3 separate regions of the Homo sapiens genome follow, and regions 1 and 3 are each linked to region 2. Evidence: fine-mapped expression QTL. A gene starts in region 2. Each other region holds a variant in brackets. All regions are shown on one strand. Distances are from middle to middle.

Evidence for each region. PIP is the estimated chance that this variant, and not a neighbour inherited with it, causes the effect.
Region 1: its variant is fine-mapped to the expression of IL16 in whole blood (TOPMed, PIP above 0.99).
Region 3: its variant is fine-mapped to the expression of IL16 in whole blood (TOPMed, PIP above 0.99). The same link has a PIP of 0.9 or more in blood mononuclear cells and monocytes.

The regions. Positions count from the first base shown.
Region 1 is chr15:81,304,686-81,312,635 of GRCh38, reverse strand. It overlaps IL16 (interleukin 16), which reads right to left. Exons shown (of 19, transcript NM_172217.5): 17 at 6,470-6,728; 18 at 6,091-6,216; 19 at 1-4,031. The coding sequence ends at 3,838. It overlaps STARD5 (StAR related lipid transfer domain containing 5), which reads left to right. Exons shown (of 6, transcript NM_181900.3): 6 at 1-3,583. Among named protein-coding and RNA genes, the nearest start is that of STARD5, 15 kb to the left of the region's middle. RefSeq lists a silencer at 3,905-4,082. The variant A/C (reference allele first, on the strand shown) is at 4,526.
Region 2 is chr15:81,193,648-81,201,597 of GRCh38, reverse strand. IL16 (interleukin 16) reads right to left here and starts at 4,719. Exons shown (of 19, transcript NM_172217.5): 1 at 4,446-4,719.
Region 3 is chr15:81,294,416-81,301,793 of GRCh38, reverse strand. It overlaps IL16 (interleukin 16), which reads right to left. Exons shown (of 19, transcript NM_172217.5): 13 at 4,716-4,866; 14 at 1,319-2,414; 15 at 282-450. Among named protein-coding and RNA genes, the nearest start is that of STARD5, 26 kb to the left of the region's middle. RefSeq lists enhancers at 3,054-3,103, 3,277-3,326, 4,032-4,596, 4,597-5,163. The variant C/A (reference allele first, on the strand shown) is at 3,798.

The DNA.
Region 1 (7,950 bases), 110 kb before region 2:
GTTTTTCTCTCTTTATCCCCGCAAGGTGGAGTTTCATGTCCTCGGTGAAACCAGACAGTGTGAATCTGTTCCAGCCCAAATCTGCAGCATTAGGGATGAGTTCTCAGAAGTGATTCTGAACTGAGCACGCACTCATGTCTGCATGGGGAACTCTGGGGAGAAGAGCCTTCCTTTTCTTTCCCTTGGGCATTTGCCTTTCCTTGTCGTCTTACTGAGGCGGAGGCAGGAGGTCTCTGTCTTCCAGGCCCTGGCCAGGCCATCCTGCCATCAGGAAAGATGGAAGAGTAGGCCTCCGTCTAGCAGCCCTGGCTGGAAATCCCCCCTCTAGATCCTGCTGCAAGACTGTACAAACTCACAGGGGCCATGTCCACCCAGGCACATCATCAGAACCAGGGAGCACAGCCTTGCCACCTAGAAGGGGCCTCAGCAGCCGTGCAACTTTCTTTCCCTATCTCCAATCCAGAGAGGGATCCTCTAACATTCTCTAGCAACCTCATCTGCACCCCCACCACCTTCCTTGTAAGAAAGACCACGTGTGACTAAAATCCCTTCACGCTGCATTTACCCAGGTTACTATTGTGCGCGCAAAATGTTTTCACAGTGTTCTCAGCCTTTGCTCCTCCAAACAGAAAACGTTTCCCCTGCGTTACTGTTACTTCCCTATTTTTGAGTCCTGGGGTGACTGTCTCTTAAATGTGCCAAGATGTGAGCAAGCTTTAAAACATGACAGCTCAGTGTTAAGGAGACAGAAAGCTTCCTCTTTCTCTGTTCTATTGCAACTACAAATTCTACAGTCATGCCTAAGATCCTTTAGCTAACACCCTTTTCAAGAAATCATCAGACTCTTGGATTGACTTAGAATTCATTCATTCATTAAGTGCTTACCGAGTCCCCGCTCTGTGGCAAGCACTGTTCTATATCAACTTCTCATGAGTTCAGCCAATTCTAGGTGCACCAGCCAAGGAAACTTCATGCCTGCCCTCTCTGAGCTCCATACTCTGAGGTGGTGGTCTTATCAAGATGGGATCGCCTTGTACATCCCTGTGTAGCCAAGTGGAAGGCCAGCCAACCAAGAATGCATCTCACTGGGCCTATGGGACATACTGTGCCTGCACTGCTCCTCCACGTGACTGCATCAGGTTAAACTGGTCAGAGCCCTGGATGAGGAGCTGGAAAACATGCATCCAGTCCAAGCTCTGCCACTTGGGCCAAGTGTGCTCTTGAACAGTCACTTAATATATCTGCTTTGATTTGTCTTTTAAAGAAAATATGGAGGCAGGAATACCAGTGTCAGTGTAGCCTGCTTCTTGAGTGTTGGCACAAGTGAGATAATGTATGAATCAGTAAAATGCTGGGCAAAGCAAAGAAGTAGGGCTGCCTGGGAGTGGATTCCTTTTTATGGTGAGTTAAGACGACTTCACAATTGTTAGCTGTGATGCCTGCAGTGTTTGAGGATGGCATTGCCTTCATCCTGTGTCAGCTCTGAAGAAGTTGGCAGAGCAAAGCTAAGCCTCAAGTGTAAATCCCAGCATCATGGAACGCAAATGGATGAGCTTTTGTTTTAGGATCTTCTTGCTGATTCCTACCCAGAGGACTTCCCCAGCCTAGAGACCAGAAACCTGGGCAATAGTTATATCTTCAGTGGCCCTAGGAGTTGTTGTGTCTCCTTGGGGAGGAGAGAACCTTCTAAAACAGGCCAGAGACAGGAGGTACTGGGAGGGCCATGGGCTCACCTGCATCTATGCCCAGATAACCTGGGACAGATAACCTCTGTCCCAATCACTTGCTTTGCCTGGTCTCTCAAGGAGTCTCTTGGTACCCCAGGCCCACGGCCAGCTCCATGCTCATCCCTGTCCCCACCTTCCAGTCTTGATGAAAACCCACCTTCTCTTTCATCCCTTGGCTGCTTGATAAGACTTAAAACAATTCCCTGATTTTAGGGAAGGCCACTGCGTGCACAGATGGTGAGTTTGTGCAGGCAAGGAATGTGCCCTCCACATCACGTGGCCTCCTTGCCCAGCCTGGGTCATGGGAAGGGAGTGTTGAATTGAATCACGTCTTTCGTTGGTAGATTATGTTCATCTTCAATGTTTCTATTAAGTCTAAAAAGTGGATACAAATGGTGCCTCCAAGTTCTTGTCTAATTGCTTGTCTACTGCTTGACAAAATCCAGAATGGAATAGGCCAAACAAGTTAACCAGCAGGACAGAAACTGCTCTAAGCCCATTATTCCTTGAGATGAATAGAACAGTGAGCTGAACGCCTGCTCTAATGAAGCCACTAAAGGGGTTTACAGGAAGGTTAGGAGCCCAGATGGGTTTTGAGTCCACTGCTGGGAAACAGATTCTTCACTTCCTGTGGACCCTGGAGAAGCCATCAGATTACATTAACATGGCTCCACTGATGATGGCCTGAGAATTACTATTGTTTGTGTTTCATCTGTGTCCTTGCCAGGTCTTCCCCCACATCCTTACTTCACAGGATCAGGGGCTGAGAGGAGACCAATACTCTGGCCCAGGCCTGGTCAAGGGATGCTGGTTGTTGCTGATGCAAAGTCACATTGCCTGGTCCTGAGCTTGGCAATCAGGCATCCAGAGATGGCCAAACCAAATATCCCTTTGGCCAGGCACTCAGGCATTCCCTGTAATGTTGTGCACTTAAAGCATCTTGGGCTGATAGTCTCCACCGAATCACAGAAGAAAACTCAATCTGCCGCATCACTCACCAGCTGGATAAGCCATTTACTGTACACAGTGTGTGCCCTCTTATCAATACATTGGCACAGAACCATACACCGTAGAAGCTGCTGTGATCACTAAAGGCAATGCCCGTTTAGCCCTGAGCACAGTGCTTGGCATGTGGTAGGTAAGTAGTAGCAATTTTATTTGATACCCTCATATACACGCTGGTTCCTTCTGTCGGCACACCTGTCCACGCTTTGAGCTTGGTGCTTCACCTGTACTCCTCTGTTTACTGGCTCCACCACCCTTCCCTAGGATTACTTCTCCAATCCAACCAAAAACAATTTTGCAAATGTTTCATGTGACAAACTGTATTTTTCATAAATGACCCCAGCAATATTTCCTCTCCCCTTAAACCCAGGCAGGTTTGTGTCAGCTCTAACTGATGGAGTATGGTGGAGGTGATGCCATGCAACTTCCAAGGCAAAGGTATAAACAAGATGCAGCTTCTACATGGCTCTTGCGATCCTGGGATGCTCATCCTGGGAATCCAGACACCATGTTGTGAGGAGGCCCAGGCCACAAGGAGAGGCCACCTATAAGCATTCAGGCCAGCAGCCCCAGGTGAGTTCCCAGCCAACATCAACGGCCAGATGTATGAGTGAATGATCTCACGTGGTCCCAGCCTTTGCATGACTTTGCATGACGCCAGCTGATGCCAAGTGGGACAGAGATGAGCTGCCCATTCCAATCTCTGCCCACATTGCAGATTCATGAGAAAAATAAATGTCACTGTTTGGGGGTGAATCATGACACAGTTACAGTACTTGAAACATTTTGCGAAGCCAGGCATGAATGTCATATGAAATTCTAATAAATCCATTTTATTTGTGGCACCACAATATTATCATTAAGCTCTCTTTTTACACAGTCTGCAATTTGTATCAGCTGCCCCCGTGTGACTCTGCCCTTATTTTAGGAACAACCTTTTGCTGGGTGGCGTCCTAGAAGGTCTGGGCCTGGGCAGCAGCCACTGGGAAGCCCACCTGTGCTTTCCCCCATCTGGGTGGGGCGGCAGCAGAGACCCTGAGAATCAGCGGTTATGGGAGCTGTGTGTTAGCTGTGTGTTATTGGCTTTGGCTTCAGCATGTCCTGCCTAGGAGTCTCCAGCAGCTGTGGTTTCCTTGGACTGGAGGCTTTTTCTCCTGATGACAATCGTGACAGGTCCATCAGGCAGTGCCTTGATGATGTTCCAGGCTTCAAACCGTGTGAGGCCCTGCATGGCAGTGCCACCCAGCTGTAAGATTTCATCTCCAGGCTGGACTGTCTCACTTTGTTCTGAGGCTGCTCCTGAAATGAGGGAGAAGGTAATGGGTTCCACAGATGATGGGGAACAAGGAAAGTTGCCTCCTCTCCTTGATCTCCAAAGAGCCAGGATAGCTTGGTAGAGAACAGGGCACCATCCCTTGGGAGCTTGCTTGTTGGTGGTTCTAAAATGAGGCATCTCTTAAGATGGTGACTCAGAGGTTAGGGCACCAGGCTCCAGCTCTCCATGGCCTTTGGAAAGGGATAGCCCTTGCTGTCCCCAGGGGAGGGAAATATCAGGCAGCTCCACGCCTTAGCCTGCCTGGAGCACCGTCCATAGTTCATAGAGGACTCTGGGGAGCTGAGTCCTGCCCAGACCCTGCTTTGGACACTGACCCAATATCCTACTCCCTTCACATTTGTTCTCCGCATGTGGTGAGGACATCAGCATTGGGTGGTATGGGAAGAGAGCTAGTGAGATTTTTGTGCAACAATATTTACAGGGATCTTGCCTCTGGCACGAAGTCCTCTGTGTCCAC[A/C]TAAAAAAGGAAACAACCATATATGGCCCCCACTATTTCAAAGCTGCAAGTGAAAACAATGCTATTTTACTGTTTATATTAAAATAAAATTTCCCATCCATTTGACACAGTGATCTTCACAAATCCTGATAAGAGTAGAAGATAATACTAATGATAGTAATGAAAATATAGCTAAAGTGTATTGGGCAATTATTTTAACAGGCGTTGTGCTAATGTTTTGCATTTATGACAGTAATCCTATGAGGGGTGTATTATTTGTGTTTCCTTTTAACAGCTGAGGAAACCAAGAACTCAAGTAACTGGCCCAGAGCTTCATAGCTGCTAGTGGTGGGCCCTGGGCTGGAACCCAGACTTTCTGGCTCCAGAATCTGCATCTCTCCTTCCAACATCACCCTGCAGCTGGCAGTCTCATCCTAAACATTTAAGCAAATGGGCCCATGGTGGTGAAGTGACTTGTCCAAGATCATGCTACCAAGGTCATGTGGCAGAACTAACACTGGAATCTAGTCCTCTTGACATTGAACCCAATGCTCCTTCCAAATTGACCTTCAAAAATTAGAAATATCTTTCCCAGAATTGGGGTTAACATGGATTCTGGGGGGAATGCCATGTAAGCCTCACTCTACCTTCTGGGTTTCTGCAGCCGCAGCAGAACTTCCTCTAACGAAACCAGTCAGCAGCAGGAGCTCATAGTGGGTGAGGGACAGAGCTAAGAGTCCCTTTGGGTCTCAGTCCTAAGAGCCCTCAGACACACACCTGTACCTCTTTACCTCCTTTTATGGATGAAGAGCCTCAGGCCCAGAAGGGAAGGGTCACTCAGCACATTACAGGCAGAGCTGGGACTAGAACCTGGCCCACCTGCCTCCCTGTCCAGTACTCCTCTCTCTACAACCCCTTGCTCTGTGGCTTGGAGACCTCCAATTTGAGGAACACCAAAGAATCAGGGATGGTTTTACATGGTAGCCACAGTCATTCATGATTTTCACAGGGAAATCCAAGTGACCCCCATATCAGACTGGTTTGTACTCCAATCCCTGATGAACAAAATATCTATCAACATTTTAAATAAAGGCAGGAGCTGACGTGTCCAGGACTAGGGTAAGGCAAATGAGGCCAAGTGTGCAGTACAAAGTCAGACTCTGTCTTGATTTAAACTTGGATATTTTGTCCAACATGTTTTTTTAAAATTAATTTTAAAAAACACGCTGCATTAAAATAGTATCGATCTGAGTTACTGAGTGTTTTGGCACCCCTTTAAAATTCTGCCCCACAGGCCAGTGCCTCACTGCCCCACTCTAGAGTCCTGGCCCTGCCAACCCGAACCAAGCCCAGGACTTAGGTATTTTTGAAGACCCATCAAAACAGAGGGGGGATTGAGGGGATGTCTGAGCAAAGGAGAAAAAGTAGAAAAAGCAGAATTGAGCCCTAAAAGGACCAGCATGCCTATGAAGAGGACATGGAGTTGTGGGAAACAACATAGCCCAGAAAGTGCCCAGAAGCCTTTTGGGGGCCTGGCCACATGCCCACAACTGGAGAGCACGCAAAGAACCAGACACACCCCACACCTTTGAAAATCCTGTTAATGGTGAGAGGCTTGTCTCCGTGTAGGGAGCCCTTCCCTCCTTCCAGGCTGAAGCCCAGCCCTGCCGACATCTTCTCCAGTGTCACCGTGCAGACTGTGGCCTCTGCTGCTGAGAAAAACACAAGGTCTCTGTTAGGGATCCTCTCCTCTCCCAGGCCACAGATGCCCTGGGCTTCAAGTGAGCCCGGGGTGATACAGCCCCCGTGTTTGCACACAGGCACATGTAAACACGTCTCAGGCAGTGTACTAGGCAGCCACACATTCTTGGGGTCACAAATTACTGAGTAGCCCCATCAGGTCTGGCCCCAAATGGCCAAAGAGGATGTGGCCCATGTGGCTTCCACTGAGTTGGGAGAACTTACTAGATTCTACAGAAACATCACTGGCTGCAGAGGCTGAGGCTGCAGAGTCAGTGGAGGAGTTGAGGTCGGGCATGGCCTCTGGAGTCAGCTTCCTTGTGACAATCACAGCTTGCCTGGGCTCTCGAGCTTGGCGGAGGATGGCCAAGGCATCATGGTGCGTGGTCCCCTTGAGAGACTTGCCGTTGATGGAAAGAACCTCATTGCCCTTCTGAATAGTCCCTTCCTGGGAGGCCAGCCCATTTGGAAACACTCTGTGAACCTGAGCAAACCAAAGGAAGTCAGGACCAGAAATCACACAAGTCCAGTCCACATACTTGCTGGAGGAGGATTGAACCGGTTAGTCAATGCTAGAGGATTTTTAGGCCAACAAAGATTAAAGATAATTGTGTCCTAGATTGGAGCTGCTGGCACAGAGGCCAGCATTCCCTCCTTCTCCATCCAGAGCAGAGATCACCAGCAGTAATGACCAGGTAAGCCCTCAGAATCCATCCCAACACAACGTCCTATAGTGTACCACCACGATTCTAGTTGGGATTCCATATAAAATCTTTTGCTTCACCTGCCCTAGGTCAGAAGTCCCCAGAGTAGTTTTCTCAAGGCACTGATTCTATGGCATATTAACGGGTATTGTGTAAGAAAAAGGCTTTTCCTATTATTTTTTAAAAAATAGAGACAGGGTCTCCCAGTGTTGCCCAGGATGGTCTCAAACTCCTGGGCTCAAGCAATCCTCTCACCTTGGCCCCGCACAGTGTTGGAATTACAGGTATGAGCCACCACACCCGGCCAAGAAAAATTTTTTAAAATCAAAGAAACTTGAGGAATACTGGGTGAAACAAAAGCTCTGACATTGTCTACTTTTAAAAAGCAAAAGGCATTAGAGGGTCTACAATGCAAATTTGCATGGCAGCAGATTTCTAAGCAAAAGGCATTTAGAGGGTCTACAATGCAAATCTGCATGGCAGATTTCTAAGTATTGGCAGGGTATTATGGGGATTCCCAAAGTGTTTCAACAAAGAATTCTTTTCTCATAGAGAAATTCTCGGTCTCATTTGGCAGAATGCATTTTGAGAAACACTCTCCTAGGCAGTCTAGACATTTTTATAGCTCCTCCCCTAGAAATTCTGACTCTTTACCTCCAGTCACCTCTTGGTCCCCTTTCTGCAAGATATGTGGGATAAACAAACACACAAAAATATCTCATGTCTCTGCCTCAGCCTCTTTAATGAGGTCCATTATAATTAAGAGGACTGAGTGATAGCATGCATGGAAACCACTAAAATGTGGTACCTGTAGTTTTGCTTTTATGATAGGAGCAAAGCTCTTTGCTTCTCTAAATTGTTTTGGTGTTAGAAAAATTCTGTTACATGGTTAGAATCCCCAGGCTGTAACATCCAAGCATGAAGCAGAACCTCTCCTCTGAGCCTCAGGTTCCTCAATGCTAGAGGATTTTTAGGCCAACGAAGATTAAAGTTAATTAAAGG
Region 2 (7,950 bases):
ACAAAAACCACAAACTTAAAACAAAGAAACCCAAAATATGATCTGCCTACTGGAAGAAATAGAAGTAGGAAAGTGGCTCAAAAAGTTGTTCGTGGATGAACAACTAAGATCTCCTTCCTGGAGAACTAAGGGCAGGGCCATTAAATTAGACATTTCGTGATCTCTAAATAGAACTGAGAGGAGATTCAAAGAAATGCAAAATAACAGCTATAGAGCATTATGGAGTCTTTGGCCTGAAAGAATTTTTCAGATTTTGATGGTCCAACTGCTGTCATTTACTTCTGTGTGTGTGTGTGTGGATGGGGGTGTGTGCGTGCATGTGTGTGGGTGTATGTGTGATTGCTTTGGCTTGAGTTTTGGTAAGAAATTACATATCATGTCTTTTAAGATTATTTTTAGATATATTTCTCTTTTTCACCACACATACACACACACACACACAGAGACACACACACACTTTTTATTTTCTGCTTCTGACAACTAGCTCAATGCAGGGGATGCATTGTCCTGCCACTGCTTCAGTAAATGTGACAGGTATCCTGTGTTCTCAGCAACTGCTGCAGGATTCTCTGGCATCTGCACTTTGGCTGGAGTTGGCTACAACCATCCTTGGAGGATGAGGAGAAGGAAGGAAGAGAGGGAAAGCGCATAAGACTGGGCCACCTGTCCACCTTCTCCAACCCTCACCATTGCTCGAGGCTCTCTTAATCCATTTATGAGGAGGTAAGTACAGAAAAAAAGACAGATGAGCTTATGGCTGACTCAGGCCTGAAATCCTTGCCTTGGATAATGGGAAGAAGGCCATCTTTTTGAAAGAGAAGATCAGGAATATTTCAGTTACAATACTCTCCTGACACATTTTCACCATTCCAAACTCCACCCAGTGTTCTACAGGACTATTTATGAAACTTTTAAAATCTTGACCTAGGCTAGGCATGGTGGCTCACGACTTTAATTCCAGCACTTTGGGAGGTTGAGGCGAGCAGATCACTCGAGCTCAAGAGTTTGAGACCAGCCTGGCCAACATGGCAAAACCCCATCTCTAATAAAAATACAAAAAATTATCCAGGTGTGGTGGCGTGTGCCTGTAGTCCCAGCTACTCGGGAGGCTGAAGGGGGAGAATCACCTGAGCTCACGGAGTCAAGGCTGCAGTGAGCCGGGATTGCACTGCTGAACTCCAGCCTGGGCAACAGAGTGAGACCCTGTTTCAAAAAATAAATAGATAAATAAATAAAAATAATTTTTAAAGAATTTTAAAAATTAAAAAAATCTTGACTTACCATAATAATTTACATTTTACATCATAGTACATGGATCACATACACATAAGATTTATATGTATACATAAATAAATAAATATATATAACTAAAAACTTTCATGAAACAATACCTTTACTACGGTATAATAAAAATAATATAAAATATCTTTGGTATGAAAAAGATAATATAAAATATGATTTTGCTAAGAACCTGATGCAATCTGATGTATGCTATTCTTTTTTTGTTTTAGAAAAAGGAAGTTGGTTCCAACCCGCTAAGTTGATTTTCAATCCACTAGTGGGTCATGCTTGAAAACCACTACTTTCAGGTTTTCTCTGATTTTTTACAGCAATTCCATATGGGGTATTTGCTTTGATTCCTCATTTAGCTCCCTTCTTTGGGCCACTGAATCTTGTCATATGTGCATTGATTTTGCCGCATTTGCTCAGCCCTACTCAAGAGGTCTGTGCTTACTCAGATTCGGGAGCTGGGATGAGTTCTGAAATTCCTCGTTGGAATCTTTCATATGCCGATGCCAGACTGCAGAAAGGGCTTAGATTTCCTGTGGCTTTTCTTTGCCAGGTGAGAGGTGCAGTGAGCAGCAGGGAAGGTGCACCATTCCCCAGCATCCAAGTTCTCAGGGGAGCCTTGAACCTTTGGAAGGGATGTTTGTAGGTGACCGCCTCCTATTGGCTGAGCAAGGTAGCCATGTCTTAGCTGCTGTAACTGTCCACTGGAGGAGCATTTCCATCCCAGCTGCACATGCCAAGACTCAGCCAGGGGCAAGACCGATGGAGATCTCCACGCGGGATCCCAGCATCGGGTCACTGTCCAGCATTACCAGTTGCTCCCACTCAAAGCAAACCTCTCCTCCAGCATCTCCAGATGTGGCAAGAACAGCGCCTCCCTCCTGATGGGCTCCGCCCTTCCACCCAACGTCCTTCACATCCACCTGAGACATCCACTGAGACTTCTCAGTGTTTCTGGCACACACTGAGCAACACTGTCTAGTTTACAAGACTGACATAGATTCGTCCTTATTTCAACAGGAATTCAAAAGAAGAACTTGAAGTAAATTCCTGATTTCAAGCTGCCTTCCTAGTTAACCACAACTCCAAGTTCTTGGAACTATTTGTTTATTTTGCCCCATGCCTATTTTCTCCCCGTGTTTATGAGCATATTGCTATTCACAATGAATTGCTTTTTAATAGCAAAACGTAACCTATATATGAAAATGTATTACCAATTCAAATGCACAATAAAAAATATGTATTTTATATATATATATATATATATATATATATATTTTTTTTTTTTGAGATGGAGTCTCCCTCTGTCACCCAGGCTGGAGTGCAGTGGCATGATCTCGGCTCACTGCAGTCTCCGCCTCCCGGGTTCAAGCAATTCTCCTGCCTCAGCCTCTTGAGTAGCTGGGATTACAGGCATGTGCCTCCACGCCTGGCTAATTTTTGTATTTTTAGTAGAAACAGGGTTTCACCATGTTGGCCAGCCTGGTCAGGAACTCCTGACCTCAAGTGATCCGCCCGCCTCGGCCTCTCAAATTGCTGGGATTACAGGCGTGAGCCACTGTACCTGGCCAGTAGATTTCAATTCAAAGTGTACCTCCCTCCCTCTCACTCCTATACCCCTGGGCCACTGCTGGGAACCAGAAAGGGGGAGGGGTTGACAAAAGGGCAGGTCTCAAGGTCCTGGTCTGCCTCTGCCAAAATAATTCTGCCTTAACTGATTATACATGAGTTTTCATGATAGATTTTAATTCTAAAAAGGTTTCCATGAATACAAACAATTAGAAAATAATAATTCTATAGTCAATTGCATCCAACAGAGATTATTTTTTAACCCTATGGATATATGACCATCTTTGTGTTGAGGAAACTCAAGTATTTATTGAGGCATGCCACAAAGCCAGTGAGAGCATGGATTTTGGAGTCAAGCTGGGTTTGGGTCCTGGGAACGTCTAGCTGAGTGGTCCTGTGCAAGCCTCCTCACCTCTCGGTTTGGGGATATACTCCCTAAGCTCCAGGTTGTTGTAAGGTTTAAATTAAATGAGGTATGTGAATATTTTAGCTTGGTGCCTGGGGCTTGAAGAGTGGCCAGGAAATGGTTGGGGTACTAAGTTTTATTTAAAAGACTCACTGGGGATTGAATAAATGAGCAGTAGAGGCTTCAAGGGTCTGACCCACCTGACGGCTCATGCCCACGTCATATCTGCAGCAGGGGAGGTGCCTTCTACTGTGCTCGTAAATGTTGACCATCACTTAACTTCAGGGTAAAGAAGGAGAACAGAGGAGGAAAAAGGCTGAACGGTCTTCTCCTTCCGGGGGAAACTGGAGAAATAGGAAGGGGAGCCACAGAGACGGCAGCTCCCAGGCTGCTTCCAGGAACCCAGTGGGAGCTTGAACTGGCCTCCTGGGACAAAGGGGTCGTCTTTGTATGGCTCAGCCTGAAGTGGGAGGATTTCACCTGATAAGGGCAGGAGGAGAAGATGCTTCCCTGTATTCCACAGGGAACCTCTATTCTTATGCTGTTACCTCATTCTCCAGCTACAGAAAGCAAACTTGCTATGGACCAAAAAAGAAAAAAACAAACAAACAAAAAACAAAAACAAAAAAACACCAATCCTGGGACCTACCAATGCAGGAATTAGTCACGGGACCCTTATCAAAAAGCAAGCAGAGTGAACACTTTTCCCATGGTCAATCTGCAGAGATGCCCACCCGCTGTGCCCACTTTGGAGAAAAGGAGTCTGGCCAGGCAGCAGAGAAGCCCCCATCAGGTGCCCCGTGGCCTTTCTCTCTCCTGCTGCCTTCCTTTCCTCCACCTCCTTCCACACCCCATTGCCAAGGATGAGACGAGGCTGAAAAGTCAGAAATCTCAGGACCAAATTCTCCCCGTGCTGCAGAGCCAGGTCAAGCGATATCCCTCTGCCCGCTCTGGCCTTCTGAAGCTGCTTCCTCCTGTACCTAACTGTGACATGGTGACACAGAGATTCCTACCAACACAATCCTGGCTTCTGCTCCTGCCCCTGACCCCAGCACCACTTCCAAATATGAAGTTACGTCCTAGCAACCAAGACCCTCCCCATTCAGGTCAGAGAGGCCAGCTTCCTCCCTCCGGTAACGGCCACCTGGACAGAGCAGCTGCCTGACAGACATTCACTCACCTGGTGCCCACCTACCTCCCTATGCACAGTCCCCCGGGGCTGCCATCTCCCTTGCTCCTCTCTCCATCTGCCCAGCAGGGATTGCAGCACCACTTATTCCCGGACAGCCTGTGGCCCAGGCCTGGGTCAGAGCCGGCAAGGATTGAGAAATGGACGCTCAGTTCTCAGACGGAGGCCGGCCTTTGAGTCAGATCCCAGGCTCCGATAGTTGAGATGCCGTGAGTAGGACACAATATTCACCACCTGCTCTGGACAGGTGACTCAGGACAAATGTGTCCCACCTGGCATGGATTTGCTCGAAGACTCCTGATCTGAGCCATCTGACTGCTCCACGTGAAAAGGCTTGATCCAAAAAGGGGGGCTGCCAGTGCTGAGAAGCTCAGCCTCAGAACAAGGTCCACCATCTGCTGGGCTGGCCGGCAACACCCAGGAGGCAAACCCAGTGCAGAGCCACAGAACCACAGTGAGGTTCCTTGGTCCAGCCCAGTTGCCCCTGCCTTCTTTGGACAACACAGAAATGACTAGGAGAGCCGAAAGGTAGCAGACATGACTCGGTGCCTGCAATGTGCCTGGCACGCTGCTAGGAGCTTTCTATAAACCTCATCACATGCTGGAAGCTGTGGCACGTGCCTATAATCCCAGCTACTCAGGAGGCTGAGGCAGAAGGATCACTTGAGCCGGGGGATTCAAGACAAGCCCGGGCAAACCATAGCAAGAACTCCTCTCAAATTATATAAAAATTTAATAAAAAGAGGAAAAAAGTCATCACATACAATCCTGCCATCAATCTGGTAAATATATCACCTGCTTTGCAGACAAAGAAAGCCACTGCACAAACGTTCATTAAACACCTACTACGTGCCGTGGAATTTCCCCAAGGTCACACAGTTAGCAAGTTAGCAAGTCAAAATCCACCTGTCTCCAAAGCCCAGGCTTTTTCCATAGCATTTCATTTCTTGTCTGTGCCACCCTTTCCCAAAAACAACAGACTGGCTCTCAGAAGCTTATGTAACTCAGTGGTCCTCAAGCCAGCTGCATCAGCAGCATCTGCTAGAAATGCAAGTTCTCAGGCCCTGGCCTAGACCTCCTGAAGCAGCACCTCTGGCACTCTGTTTTCACAAAGCCTCCAGGTGATTTTGGTGCGTGCTCAGGTGCGAGAGCCCATGACCTAACGTATACAGAGCATGTTGAAAACTGCAGCATAAAAGAATGGGGCACTTTTGTGTGTGTCCTGTTGGCATTAGTGTCATGAGACCAGAGTGCCTTTCCCCCACGTAGCCCCTTGGAGAATCTAATCATAAGGTGGCATTTAATCCATCTGCCCCGCAAAGAGCATCCCACACATCTCTCCTAAGCTCAGTCTCTGTGAGCCCTGTGTACATGCTAGGCTGAGGTTTTTGTATGGACCTCTCTTCTAAAGAATGGAATGTTTCCCAACGCTCAGCACCAAATGTTTCAGGGCTTCCTGGGGGCTTTAATGAGGGTGTAGGTGCAACCTGTAGGAAGCCCTTGAAATTCCATGCAAGGCTGCAAAGATCTAGCCGCTGCTGCTGGAGAACACAGGCCCACGGTCCCAAGGGAAGCACGGGAGGAGGGAGCACTCTGGGGATAAAGCTGCCTTTGTCAGCAGGCACAGGGGACATTGTAGGGCTGAGTCTGGAGTGAGTCTGGAGTGCAGTGAAGGAATTTCTAAATTGCAGAGAGTGAGCGCCTCTGTCAGTGTCGCCTGCTCAGCTCACACCCACAATCTCTCTCACAATGGCCTGGGTGCGGTGGGGCCAGGACAGACTCAGGCCCCACTTCCATCTTGCTCTGGCAGAGAGGCTGAGGAGCAATTCAGCACCCCAGGGCTATGGGGGCTGGCCTTGCCCTTCTTGGATCCTGAGGCCTGGGAGGGCCCCACAGCCCCCCTCCTCCACTAAGTCTAAGCTCTCTCTTGTCATCGGCACCTGAATCCAGTTCCCGCCTCTCCCTCTATTTTCCGAAGATCTGTTCTTTCTCACTCTCAGAAGGTAAATTTATTCCAAAGTGTAGTTGAGACTTGGCCCTGATTTTTCCTAATACGGGGTGGTTTGTGCTTCAAGGTGGAAATTTTATCACCCCTCTGCCCTTCAGGACATCCTGCAGAAAGAGTCTCCACCCTGCCCAACACTCCATAGTCCAGCTCACTGCAAGCCAGAAGAGACGGGGAGGAAGACGCAGGTGAGAGAGCCCCGCCCTGGTTAGAACTAGGAAGTTCAAGCACCACTTGAAGCTCAACCAAGAGCTTCCTGTGTGATCTTGGTCATTCACAGCCTTAGTTTGCTACGATGAAAATTAGATGAAATTAATTGTCTGCCAGATGAAATTAGAAACTTCTACTGCACAGTGTTACTGAGAGAATGAGGCAATAGAGGAGGAAGCATGCTGCCAACAGCTAACCAAGCAGAAGCCTGCTCACCTTTTTGGCCCTTCCAGCCCACGGAACTGAGAAATCTGTTCAACAAGTGATTCTGATGCTTGCTAAAGTTTCATAATCAATAACCTGTATTTCCTTCTAATTCTCCTATTTTTTAATTACAAAATTTTATTTCCAAAAGTAAATTTTTAATTACAAAAATTTTAATTACAAAATTAAAATTATAAATTTTGAAAAATTAATTTAAAAAATTTTAATTTTAAAAATTCTAATTTAATTTTTAAAAATTAAAATTACAATTACAAATTTAAATTTAATTTAAAAAATTAAAATTACAAAAATTTTTAATTTCAAAATTTTAGTTATAAAAGTAATACATGTTTGTTGTGGCAAGTAAACATATTCAGAAGGCAAAAAGAAAGTGTGTCCTTAAAATGACACAACAGGGTCATCTCCTATTCTGTTCAAACAATGGCAAAATAAAGAGCTTAGGGTCAGAGCAATAAGCCCCAGCTTCTGTACTAAGCGGCTCTGTCAACTGCAAGTCCTTTTACCTTACTGAGTCTCAGTTTCCATGTCCACAAAATGGAAACAATAACCCAATAATCTGACAGGGCTGCTCAGAGGTCTGAGCAAAGAGCTGTCCTGCAATCTATAAAATGCCTTGGGAATTCTTTATGCTGTACACTTTTGGTCATGCGAACTGTATTATCATGAGCAGAATATAATTTAACAATTTTAACTAGTAATGTAACAATTTTAACTAGTAATGTAACATGACGCAGAATATAATTTAACAATTTTAACTAGTAATGTAACAATTTTAACTAGTAATGTAATGTTACTAGTAATGTAACCTGACAGTAATGGACATGATGATAATAAATTCTCTCTGCATTTAGCACTTTCAACTTAGACAGAATGTTGAGGCCAAAACTTGATGATTTTATTGTACGTCCCCACTTACGGATGCAAACACTGAGACTCAGAGAAGTTACATGTCCAAAAAGTGCACGTCCAAGGCTGTGCAGTCAGAAGCCATTGGTCCCTTGATTCCCGCTCCCCGGCTCTCTTCCCCTCTTTCCCTGGCCCACAGCAACATATAGA
Region 3 (7,378 bases), 100 kb before region 2:
CAGGTTCTGTAACCTTGATTGAGCCTTACCTTTCTCATTTATAAAATGACAAAAGAAGATGCAAGAAGTCAATCTACTGAAAGTGGTTCACAAGCTAAAAGGCTCTCTTCAAATGGAAGGTCTTACTGTGGTCAAGTGCTACAGTGTCCCACCATCACAGGACGCAACCTGGGTCTGATGTGAGCAGGCTACTCAAGCTACTTCCCCTCTGGCCCAACTAAGGTGGCCACACAGCCATAATAAGCCATTGGTTACTGCAGATGCTTACAAAGGAAACCTACCTTTAATGTTGCTTCATCCAGAACCTTCACCTCCTCGATGAGTTTTTTTAATTCTTCTGAGCTCAGCAGGGAGATAACGGACTGACCAGACTGAAGGGAACTGTGGTCCCCATCATCGTCTTCCTTGGCTTCCGTGAGACCCTCTGTATATTCTCTCAGCTCTGAAAGGCTTTCATAAGGAGAAACAACACACAGTATGAACAACAATATTAAAAAGAGGTAACAGTGATTGTATAATTACTATGTCCCAGGTGTGGTGCCAAGCACTTATGTGCATATTATTTGATGCAACAAATCTATGAGTAGATACTAGCATACCTTCACTCTACAGATATTTCCCAGCAGTGTAAGAATAATAAATAAAACTAATAAATGCAGAGCTACTTTGATCAGAGGGAAGACCAAGCCCCAGCCCTACAGCAGGGACCCTATGGCACGTCTGACATCCTCTTGGTTCTGCATAGAAGGTCTCATCCATCTCCTAATTTCAACTGACAAGGAATCTGAGGGTGAGCATGGAAAGAACCTGCTCATAGTCAGAATCAGTGCCTAAGCTGAGACTAGGACCCAGACATCCTAACTCCCTGACGAGGGAGTTGAACCCACGTGCAGAGTACAAGTGGATTCCATTTGGAGAGTAAGAATTCCTGATGGATAATTTCCTGGCCTCATTCTGGTCTTTCTGAGTAACCGCAGGACATTTCAGATGTGCATCAACCTTCCAAATCTCCACAGGCGTATGTCAGCCCTCATGAGCAATTCACCAGGGAGCCAGTCCCACCTCCTACCTCCCAGCCCTCCTGAAGCCAGATGTTGTGAAAACTCCTCCTTAATGTGAAAGGCAGAGGTGTAATACCTACAGACAGACACACACACACTCAGACATCTGCACACACATGGAAAGAAAGAGGCAGAACAATTCTTTAATCAATATATCTGGGAATTTTTTAAATTATATATAGGATTATTTTTAAAAATAAAGATGAGAAAGAAAAAGATGAGAAAGGTAAAGAGAAACACCGGGTGTAGAAACTCACTTGAGCGAGAACCCTGTGTCCAAGGCAGATGTTTCAGCAGAACCATTTGCAGCTGAGTCTTCGTTGGATGATGATGTTGGAGATGCCCCTTCCTTGGGGATGCAGGGAGTCTGGGCACAGGAGATAGAAGATGGAAGGCACAGCAAGGATTTCATGACAGCCGATGACACTTGGCTGCTGATAGAATAGAGTTTGCTGGTCTTTTCGTCAAGTAGCTTCGTCTCACAGGACTGGGACCTGGTCAGGGGGAAGCTCCGTGCTCGCTGGCTAGGCATCTTGAGCACTGGGCCTTGAGATTCCTCAGCCTGTGTTGACAGCAGCCTTAGGAGCGGGTCCGGGCCAGGGGGGAGAGTTTTCTGATTGGGCTGCCGCCCTGGGGGAGGGGACTCAGACACACCTGGGTCTCTGGCCTCGGAGGCTGCAGGGGACCCCGAGGACAGTACTTGCTCAGGCTGCTGGGGCACAAGAGTGGGTGCAGCCCCTCGCCCCAAGAGTCCAGAAAACCGTCCTTCCTCATGCTTCCCAAGAGGTTTTGCTGCCTCCCCAGAGGAGGGCTGGAGGCTCAGTCTCTGGGCTCCTTTGTCAGGCAGTTGAGAGGAGCCAAAGGTTTCAAAGGAGCTGATTCTCTGCCTGATGGAGGAGGAGGAGGAGGAGGCCCGGATGTGTGATCCTAGGTGCTCCCTGGAAGCAGGTGCTGGCTGGGTGGACAAGGCAGGATCAGGGAGCCCTCTTGGGTCTGAAGCACGATTCCTCAAACCTTTCAAGCTTTGGCGAAACCAGGCTGGCTTGGGAGCCACAGGAGGACCTTTCTTCACAGTGCTGCTGTCTGCTGACTTGTAAACTTTGGGAGTGCCATTGGCGGTGTCCAGCTTTGGTGGGGTCCCATCTGGGTGGCCCTGTGTCCCTTCTTCTTCATTCAGGCTGGCATTGGGCTGTAGAGGCATGTGGCCATGGTTCTCACTCATGATGGGGCTAAATAAGTTTTTGATGCAGTCAGAAATCCTAACCCAAGGGTCTTCGGCTGTGGTATCAAAGCTATAGTCCATCCGAGCCTGCCTCTTAAGCAGTGGGTGTTTTATCGGGGATGTTTGGGTCACTACAGTGCAGAAACAAGGCCAAAGCTGTGCATTACATCATACAGTGACTTTTCTTCCTAAATTCTAGTTTCCAAGCTGAACAGCAAGAAGGATTCAAGAGGAGGAGATTAGCAGAAGTGGGGGACACCCAGGTGGGTGAACTCCAGGTGCTATTACCTGACTGAGCTGCCAACAGGCAGGAGTGAAGGACCAGAAGTAGGAGTTAATCTCACAGTATCCTAGTGTTTTAGGCCTGGAAGGGTGCTCAGAGAATATCTGGGCCGACCTCTGGCATATTACATTTCAAGAAGGGTAAGGGGCCATCTGATGGCAGTGCTCAGGCAAGACCCTGTGTCTCCTGACTCTTGAAGTTCATGTCCTTTCTACTGCACTAAGGAGCCTCCAAGATACCATGTTAAATGTGTAAAAGCCAAAGCAGTTCTCCTGCCGTTTAAACTTTTAAGACAAAGGTCATGAGTTGGCAGCTGTTTGTGCTTTGACCTACCCGTGTCATTAAAAACAAGGTGCCTGTGCACAGCTTCTGATGGGGCCACTTCGGCTTCCCACAGCTCTTCACGCTCCCTCTCACCCAGCCAGCATTTCCCATGTATGTACCTGCCTGGCCCTGAAGCCGTGTGTTTGCTGCTCTGCCTATACACAGGTCATTGATCAGCTTGCTCTCGGCAAAGGAGTGTTTTCCCTCCCTCAAAAGCTGATGAAAAGGTTCCAGGTAGAAAGGAATCTGTGAAGTAGGATTCTCCACCTTGGCTACATACTGGAATCTGGAGGGCCCTGAAAAATACTGACGCCCACCCCTAGGTACTGACTGAAGATACCTGGGATGCAGCCTGGGTGTTGGGAATGTGATGAGCAGGGGATTGCAATGTGCAACCTGCTCTGTGCCAGCCAGGACCTCAGGCATGCCCTGGAGCACATAGGAGTCTTTCTCAGAAGCCAGCATTGAACCAGCATCATATCTGCATGGGTAAGGGAGAGGGTGTCCTGGCTCTCTTTCCCAGGGGCAGAGGGAGGCTGGCCTGTGTGCCTTGGGGGATGCTTGCTACTGGAACGCAACCCAGTTGAAGGAACTCTGATCCCTCCTGTCCCTTGTCTCAATGCCAGGTTTCAAAAGAAGTGAATCATGGAGCATTACACCTTGATGATATCAAAGAGAAATTCTGCACAATCTAAGAGACTGGCCTTGGGCAAGTGAGCCCAGGCCTCCAGCCTGTTTCTGCATTTTTGAATGGCTTGGCTGTAAGGTGCTGTTGTGAGAATCAGGAGGCAGAGGTTCCACAGGCAAGCCCTTTGCAGATTGGAGTGACAACCTCCTGTCAGTTAAACACTGAGGCGTTTGCTTTTGCTAGAATGTTCCTCAATTAGGGTGACTAAGGGAGAGGAGC[C/A]TCCACCCACAGGGCCTCTGCTCTGGGTGAGATGTGCTAGATCTTTCCAAAATGTCCCTTAGCCCTCCAAAAGTCTTTCATGAGCTTTTCTGTAGTGTTACTCAAACAGTCATATGTTTTATAGTCTATATGTTTATTTCCTGCCACTACTAGTTGCTCCTTGGAGGCAGGACCTGACTACCTGGTCTCATCCCTTTCTCTCTCTCCCCCCAGCATCTAGCACAGGGCCTCACGAAGCCAGCATTCAATGTGTGCTTGCTGAATGCATCATATGCTTGGGGTCTACGTGCTCTTCCACACATTGCTGATGAGTGAATCTGGGCTCAGAAAGGCAAAGTAGGTTGCTCAGAATCATACTAATGACAGACAGATCCAGGATTCCCTGACTTCAAGTCCTATGCTCTCTCTAGCAAGCAAATAAATATTCAAGTCATGTCTTAGCATTGTCAGGTGTACCATGTGGACACACCCTTGCTATCCACCTCATGGAGGAGGTGACCACTGGTAGATGCTATTTATACTTTTCTGGCGTTGCATTCTCTGACTCAGAAATCCTGAATGCAGCAGGACTGTTGCAACTGGAATGTTGGCACCCTAGAGGTAGCTGCCCAGGATGGCTGGGTGGGTGTGTCTTTGGACCTCTTCCAAGGGCTCCATCCTCCCAATTATCCAGAATGGCCTGCATTCCTGCTGCCACCCCCACAGCATCACCCGTCCACCCAGGAGGCTCCCCACCCTGGACAGCACCTCCACGGTGCTGCTGCCCAGCACCTGGAACCCTTGACTGTTGATCAGCCAGGTCCAGTGGTGATGTCAATGCAGAGCACTCTGATCCTCAGGCCAATTTGTGCTCTTATCTTATCCCTGCACCTTTTTTCAAAAGACCCTTCCTTTTGGAAGATCTCAATGAAAGCTTACCTGGGCTGGCTCTTCTCCACCCTGGCTCGCCCTCTGTGGAGGACTTGGTCTGTGGGCCGATACCAGGTCCTGGGCAGCCGGCAGAGGCACTAGGGCTTCTCCCTGCTGTGTCTTCCTGTGGTAGCAGCAGTGGCAGCAGCTCTCTCGCTTCCTGTGGTGTAAACAGGAAGCGAGACCATGTCAAAACGGTAGCCTCAAGCTGTGAGAAGGCGAGACACGCTTTGATTGGGACGGAAAAACGGATATTGAGCTGCTTTCAGTGAGAAGTTCATCAGCAGCCATGTAAAGAGGATTCTTTTCTCCTTGGTGCTGACGTGGCAGAGCCAGCACCTCCTAGACATGCAGAGCATCCCTTGACTTCCAGCAACCTGGTATCCAGGTCATGGGCTCATACTGTTGACATACTTGAAGACCCTGACTCTTTATGATAGGAACAAAAGGCTTTGAGTGTGGAGGGACTGGCATTGCTTCAGTTACAACTGCATCTGGTGAACTACCCACCCCGGGAGGGTATAGGGCAGCGTAGAAACAAGGCAGCAAAAAAACCTGGCAGCTAGTGTTCCCTAAGGTTAGAGCACTCAGGAAAATGCTTGTCAATTGCTGTCACTTGTTAAGCACTCTTCAAATATTTAGTAAGTGTTCTGCAAAAGATGACAGATACTCAGCACCTGTGCCATTGCTCCCCTCTGTGGCACCTAGGGTGACATCCTCAATCTGTTGCAGAATTGTTTCCACCACTGAGCCTGGATGCAGCCTTGGGGTCCTCCCAAAACAGCCTAGGGACAAGATGAACCAGGCTCTGAATAGCTATGCAATACTTGAAGAGTTTGGATTATCACACAGTGTGCTTAAGGTACTGTCAGGGCCCAGAGGAAACAGAGAGACCAGTTCCATCCCAGAGGTGGAGAAGGCTTCCTAGAGAAGTACTTTCTGTCTGCTTCATAAACAGAGTAAGAATTTTGCAGGCAGAGAGGCAGAAAAATAGTGTTCCAGAGACATAGCCCAACCAAACATAATACCCATCTGGAAAAAAAGATTGAGAAAGCAGACATCATCAAAATGATGCCACCTGTATTTGATTGTCTGCAAGAGAAATGCTTTGCTATACTGCGGTGGCCTCCACGTCCGGTTCATTCCAGATTTGTGTAATGATGGGCCATTTGACATGGCTGCAGGCTTCCTTCCAGAGAGGAAGGAAAGAGGAAGGAACAAATGCATCCTTTGGGACTAAAAAAGCAATGGCAAATATCCATGACCTGAAATTTAAGATCTACATTGACAATAAACATTTTGGAGGAAGCAAAGGTCTACAAAAGTTAGAAGTGTATTCACAGAGCATTGCCTCAGCTCGAGTTCCCTACTGTAGAACTGAGCTTTAGGAGAGCATTATGAAATACTGAGAGATCAACCAATTTCAAAGGAATCATTGAGCTTCTCGAACTAGCCCTTAAAAAAAGTAAGGCTGAGTCATGGCATTAGAAGCTCCAAATATTGGCCTGATGATCTCTAAGTCTCTTGTCCACAAGAGAAATTACATGGGGATGAAATTTAATTTCACCTGGTTGGGAGCTCTGTAAGTTGACATCTGTTGACATTCATGAATTGTTAGCTCTTTTACAGGCAGCCACATGTGATACCAACTGCAGTCAATGCAGCTTTACAACTTAGAACAGCACAAATGTGTTTTGTCTTTTCATCAACACATCCAATATTGCATCCTCTTCATGGGAGACTTCAGAATTAGCCCCTGAAATAAATTTGATTTTACACAAATTTTTCTCTTACTAGTGTTTCCTGGAACCATGCTTGGTGGATGAGGGAGGGAGAAGAGAAAGAAGGAAAGAGGGAGAGAGCAGATTCAGCATAGTGGGGAGAAAGTACGTTTTTGTTTGGTTTTTTTGTTTGTTTTCTAAGAAAGGATTCTTCGAAAATCCTGTTGTGTTTTTTTAAGCAAGTTTTTTAAAGCACGGGGGAGAGTTTAGGCTGATTTTTTATAAGAGGGATGTTAGTTTTTTGTTGAAGAAAATATCCCAAAGTTCATATTGGTTGTGAGAGTTAAGTCCCCTTGAATTAGAGTAGATGGGAAAGACTTGGGGGTCATCCATAGCAGCTTGACAACAGTCTTGGGACCCTGTAGAGAAAAGACTGCAGGGAGGGAAAAGTGGGAGAGTGAGACAGTGGACACTGTGGCCACGGAAGAAAACATCCAGTGAGAAATCCCCAGGAATGGTCAAGGAAATTTTGAGAGTGACCTCAAGCAAATTGCTTCCTGTTTTCTATTGCGTGCTATGATCCTTTCTCTGTGACCCCCGCCTCTCCAGTGCCCAATAAAATTATGTCGTGCTGATTGCTTTTATGGAAATGTTTGTGGGAGAAGGATCTGCTGGCCACGTGGGACAGACCAGAGCAAACAGAGGAGGGCAGCTGCAGAACGGCCTTGTCTCCAGGAGACGGTGCTGTTGGGGGCAGGTACAGGAGGGAGCCCTGTATTCTGCTGAGGCACACAGGGCATGAAAGATGACCTGTGGGAAGTTCCTTGCCTGGGCTTCCCTGAGGACACCCCAGTTCCTTCTCCAGACGCCTTACTCGGGAATATTCCCTGACCCTATGTGGCTCTGCCAAGGGCATCACTGGGACAGACCTGCTGTGGCAACTGCACTCCT